Linked DNA regions of Homo sapiens: region 2 is linked to region 1. Evidence: fine-mapped expression QTL. A gene starts in region 1. The other region holds a variant in brackets. All regions are shown on one strand. Distances are from middle to middle.

What was found. PIP is the estimated chance that this variant, and not a neighbour inherited with it, causes the effect. A credible set is the group of variants that fine-mapping cannot tell apart.
Region 2: its variant is the best candidate, but not a certain one, in a credible set for the expression of PKD2L1 in prefrontal cortex (CommonMind, PIP 0.89).

Annotation. Positions count from the first base shown.
Region 1 is chr10:100,329,280-100,332,299 of GRCh38, reverse strand. It overlaps PKD2L1 (polycystin 2 like 1, transient receptor potential cation channel), which reads left to right and starts at 2,072. Exons shown (of 16, transcript NM_016112.3): 1 at 2,072-2,431; 2 at 2,976-3,020. The coding sequence starts at 2,197.
Region 2 is chr10:100,303,995-100,306,494 of GRCh38, reverse strand. All of the region lies in intron 2 of PKD2L1 (polycystin 2 like 1, transient receptor potential cation channel), which reads left to right. Among named protein-coding and RNA genes, the nearest start is that of BLOC1S2, 19 kb to the right of the region's middle. The variant AG/G (reference allele first, on the strand shown) is at 1,380.

The DNA.
Region 1 (3,020 bases):
TTTTTTTAGTTTCCACATATAAGTGAGAGCATAGGGCATCTGTCTCATTATGCCTGGCTTATTTCACTTAACATAATGTTCTCTAGGTTTATCTATGTTGTCGTAAATGACAGAATTTTCTGTGTTTTTTTTTTCAAGGCTGAATATATTATATTGTGCATATATACCACATCTTTTAAATCCTTTCGTCAGTTGATGGATACTTAGATTGTTTCCATATCTTGGCTATTATTAATAATCCTGCAATGAACATGGGAGAGGAGACATCTATTCAACACACTGATTTCAATTCCTTTGAGATTCTTGGAACATATGGTAATTCTATTTTTAGTTTTTTGAGGAACCTCCATACTGTTTTCCAAGATGTCCGTACTAATTTACAATACAGCCAAGCATACAAGGGGCCCCTTTTCTCCACAGCCTTGCCAACACTTGTTATCTTTCTTTCTTTCTTTTTTCTTGAGACAGGGTCTTGCTCTGTTGCTCAGGCTGGAGTGCAGTGGTGTGATTTCAGCTGACTGCAGCCTCAACGCCTCAGCCTCCCCAGCTCAAGTGGTTCTCCCACCCCAGCCACCTGAGTAGCAGCTGGGACTACATGCACGCACCCCATGCCTGGCTAATTTTTGTTGTTTTGTTGTTGTTTTGTAGAGGCGGTGTTTCACCATGTTGCCCGGGCTGGTCTTGAACTCCTGAGCTCAAGTGATCCTCCTGCCCTGGCCTCCCAAAGTGCTGGAATTACAGGTGTGGGCAACCACACCCAGCCAAGATCTCTTTATAGGGACACTCAAGACTGATTATTTTGACAAGGCTGATGTTTTGCTGAATGTGAAGGTGGGCTTCAGGCCAGTGAGTAGCCCTGGGTGGGGAGCCAGGAGTTAGGAGAGGAAAGTCTCTGCTCTAGCCTCAAGGAGGAGAAACTGCAGGGTGACCACCACAACCTGTGGGATCAGCCCCATTCTGGGGCATCATGCATGCCTATAGGGGAGCTGGAGCAGGTGATCAGAAGCTGGAGCAGGGCATAGGCAGGGATGTGCTTGGGGGCCCATGACACAGTTTTAATTCAGAGACCTGCAGTTATAAAGAAAGCAGATTAATCCTGATATCATGGATAGTTCCACTTTGTGCTCAAGTTTACGATTCTAGGCCCAGGACTAAGCAGAGCCATGGGAAAAGGTTCCCAGCTCAGCTGGGTCCAGATATCCACTCCCCTTTAGTCCCACATCATACTGTCCTTGTCCTTTGTTCTCCGATCCAGCCTCCCAACCAGGTCTTAGCCTTTTTCCCATACTGAGCCCCACACCCTTAAGGAACCCCCTCTCTTGGTGTATCTCACCTGTAAGCCATGGAAAGGCAAGCTTCAGAACAAGGAATATAGACAACCTAGGACTCTGTGGTCCTCTCCCCTGCCCCCTCAGTGCCCTGAAGTATGTGAGACTGGGGTTCCTCCTGCCACTGTCCTTTCCCCACGGCTGAGAGGGTGAAGTGAGGGAAGGGAGCTGCCCATCTCTGCTCCACCAGGGGACAGCTGAAGGTGAGACAGGACAGGAGCCTCAGACCCATTGACTGAACCTGGGAGGTGGGCAGAGCCTGGGAGGGGGACAGCGCTCTTCAGCTTTCCTCCCAGCCTTGGTCCCCACCCCAATCCATGTCGGCCCTTTTAGGAGCTTTTAGTGGAAATGAGCTCAGACCCGCAGCACAGGCCCCCGGCTCCCCTCCTGTCTCAGCTCCTCCCATTGCTCTTTGATCGTCTCTTCTGTCCGACCTCTGGGCCATCTCTCCACCAGGCACATCTGCGAGCAGCCCCCTTCATCCCCAGCATCGCCTTTTCCTCCCGTTTCTCCTTCCACTCCCAGCTCCACATCCTCCTCCTATTCTCCCCTCTCCCCTCTTCAAACCCCCACCTTCCAGTTCCCTCACCTCCCCTTTCGGCTGGTCCCCTGGGGCTTGCAGCAAGAGGGAGAGAGAGCTCCTGACAGGATTGATGGTCCTTCCCCACCCTGTCCTCTCATCCGCTCCCTCCCCAGCAGGCACAGACATCCCCCTACAAAAGGCAGGAGCCCAGGCTGTGTGGAAACAGCTGCTCTCAGACGCCTTTCCATTTGCTCTCTGCTGGCTAGGCTGGGCTGTGCCTCTGCTCCCTCTTCCTCTAGCTGAGAGTGGGCACCTGGGGTACCGGGCCCCCCCACCTCATTCCCCATGAATGCTGTGGGAAGTCCTGAGGGGCAGGAGCTGCAAAAGCTGGGGAGTGGAGCCTGGGACAACCCCGCCTACAGTGGTCCCCCTTCCCCACACGGGACGCTGAGAGTCTGCACCATCTCCAGCACGGGGCCTCTCCAGCCCCAACCCAAGAAGCCTGAAGATGAACCCCAGGAGACGGCATACAGGACCCAGGTGTCCAGCTGCTGCCTCCATATCTGTCAAGGCATCAGAGGTACCAGATAGGGGGACAGTTCTCCTGGGATATTAGAATCAGGAGGAGTCACCAAAAGCTTTTGGGCAGGGGGTGGGGGTGGAATGTGATCTGAAGAAGAGGTGACCTTTCGGTGTCACTTTGGGGTGTATGAATTGCCCATGGTAGTGCTGCATGACCCAGAACACAGAGGCCAGCTGAGCGGTCTACCGGTTGTGGGAGCCTGGCATGGTCATCACCTGGGGATCCAGAGAGGTATGTGGGAGCTGGTTTGAGGGAGGACATGGATGTGATGATGCCCTAGACTACCCCACCTGGAACAGGTGCCTCCTTTCCATGCCTTCATTCTCTACAAGCCAGGGCCTTCACCCCTGTCGACCTCAGGGAGCTGATGGGAAGAGCAAGCATGGGTGTGGGTACAGTAGCCAGATTCAGCCAAGGATGAAGGTGATGGGCAAGGAAGGGCAGGGGTGGAAAGGGGCTAAAGTCCAGAGACAGATGGGTGGGGATGACTGGGAGGAACACTGCCACTGAGCATCCCAGGCATCTCTCCCATGCCCCTTAGGACTTTGGGGAACAACCCTGACTGAGAACACAGCTGAGAACCGGG
Region 2 (2,500 bases), 26 kb after region 1:
AGTGAACTCAGTGATTTTCCCCTGGAGTGGGAAGCAGGTGTCCTAAGTGTTCTGTGTAGTTTGTAAGTCATCTTGAGATCCCTGGGAAGTTCTGAGAGCCCTCTGGAAGCTTTTTTCTCTTTCTACTCTCTATTTTGGAATCACCAAAATAGATACTGGGAAACCCACTGCCTTCTTGACATTTCTATTGAAGACAAGTAGGACTGATTGCTTGTCTGATTGCAACAGGTCAAGGCAGCAGTTCTCAAAGTGTGGTCCCATGACCACGAGTATCACTTTGGAACTTATTAGAAATGCAAATTGTTGAGCCCCACCTAAACCTATAGCAATCCATGTTTTTTAGGGGTTGGTTTGTTTTTGTTTTTGTTTTTTGAGATGATCTTGGCTCACTGCAGCCTTGACCTCTCATCTCTCACCGAGTAGCTGGGACCCCAGGTGCACACCACCATGCCCGGCTAATTTATGTATTTTTTTTGTAGAAACAGGATCTTGCCACGTTGCCCAGGCTGATATCGAACTCCTGGACTCAAGTGATCCACCTGCATCAGCCTCTCAAAGTGCTGGGATTATACGAGTGAGCCCTGTACTTGGCCAGCAATTTGTGTTTTAAAAAGCCTTCCAGGTGATTCTGATGCATGCTAAAGTTTGCTTATCATCGGTGGGTTAAGAAAAGGGGAGAAAGACACATGAGCCAAATCATCACCCCATGTACAACCCTGGGCTTCCTCTGCCCTGCTTTTAGATTCAGATTCCTGCAGCCTCCATGCCTGATGCCCATCTGATGCTCTCGACGGATGACTTATTAGAGAGACTGAGTTCTGCCAGCACCATTTCTACCTTCACGCTGTGTAGGGAGGGGTTCCTGGTAAACTGTGCTTGCTTGCTAGGTCAATCAAGGACTGGCTTTATTTCTCTTACCCAAGACTTGAATGAATGTATTGTTCTCTTTGGACTAAGGAATATTCCAGCCTCTTTCCAACATTTACTAAATATAAGTTGTCCTTGACTATTTTGATGACATTGCTGTGATGGGTCAAACATGGATTAATGATGCTTTACTCAGTTTGAAATTGATTCACTTGGCCGGGTGTGGTGGTGCAAGCCTGTAATCCCAGCACTTTGGGAGGCCAAGGCAAGTGGATAATTTGAGGTCAGGAGTTCGAGACCAGCCTGGTCAACATGGTGAAACCCCTGTCTCTACTGAAAATACAAAAAATTAGCCAGGTATGGTGCCGGGCGCCCGTAATCCCAGCTACTCAGGAGCCTGAGGCAGGAGAATAGCTTGAACCCGGGAGGCAGAGGTTGCAGTGAGCTGAGATCACGCCACTGCACTCCAGCCTGGGTGACAGTGCGAGACTCCATCTCAAAAAAAAAAAAAA[AG/G]ACAAGAAGAGAAAATGATTCACTTATTTCATTTCTACCCTTTATTATAGTATTATAGTTATTTTTCATTTTTCCACTGTTGGTTCAACCAACAAACACTTATTGGGAAGCTACTCAACTACTTATTGAGTTGCCTAAAAGGTATTATATTCCCAGTTTTACAGATGAGAAAGCTGAGACTCAGAGCCCAAGTCTATACTGTAAGTGGCAGAGCTGGGATTTGAACCTAGATCTGTCTGGCTGCAGTGCTCATGCTCATTCTGCTACATCAAGTTCATTCTGGGACACGTCTTCCTCAATAGAACTTTTTAAGGATAGAAACCATGACACTGCTGGTCATGGTGGCTCACGCCTATGATTCCAACACTTTGGGAGGCTAACAGCGGAGGTCAGCTTGAGTTCAGGAGTTCAGGACCAGCCTGGGCAACATAGTGAGACCTTGTCTCTACACAAAATTTAAAAAGGGGTGGCATGCACTTGTGGTCCCAGCTACTCAGGAGGCTGAGATGGGAGGATCACTTGACCCCAGGAGGTTTGAGGCTGCAGTGAGCTATGATAGTGCCACCCCACTCCAGCCTGGGCAACACAGCAAGACCCTGTCTCAAAAAAAGGAAAAGAAAAGATAAAGATAAAAGAAACCGTGACACCTAGCAAGGTATTTTATACATTGTAGAATTTGAATAATGTTTGTTTAATGAATATAAAATGTGTTTTTAGAATAATTCAGGTTGATAGGCTGATAATATGGGCTACTAACTATGAACATCGGAGGTATTAGAAATACTCGGTTTGGGTTTCATAAAATGGTGGGAAAGTACCCCTCATCTCATGGGATGGAGTACAAAATTCACAGATGTAAGAATTAATGAGGGAGAAAGAGTGTTTGTATGGGGAGAGAGTGTTGAATAGGTACTAAACCAAATTTAGATTCTAATTTAGAAAATTTTTAAGGTTGCTTCTTGCTCTTTTCTGTACCTATGCACTTCAATTTAAAAAGTTACAAATAGCGAATACTGAATTTCTGCCTGTCAATAGGCATTTTACCAGGTCAAGCCATTTTTCTCAGAAGACGTGTAATATTTACTGCCTTGTATAATAATCAGAGATATTATGCATCCAT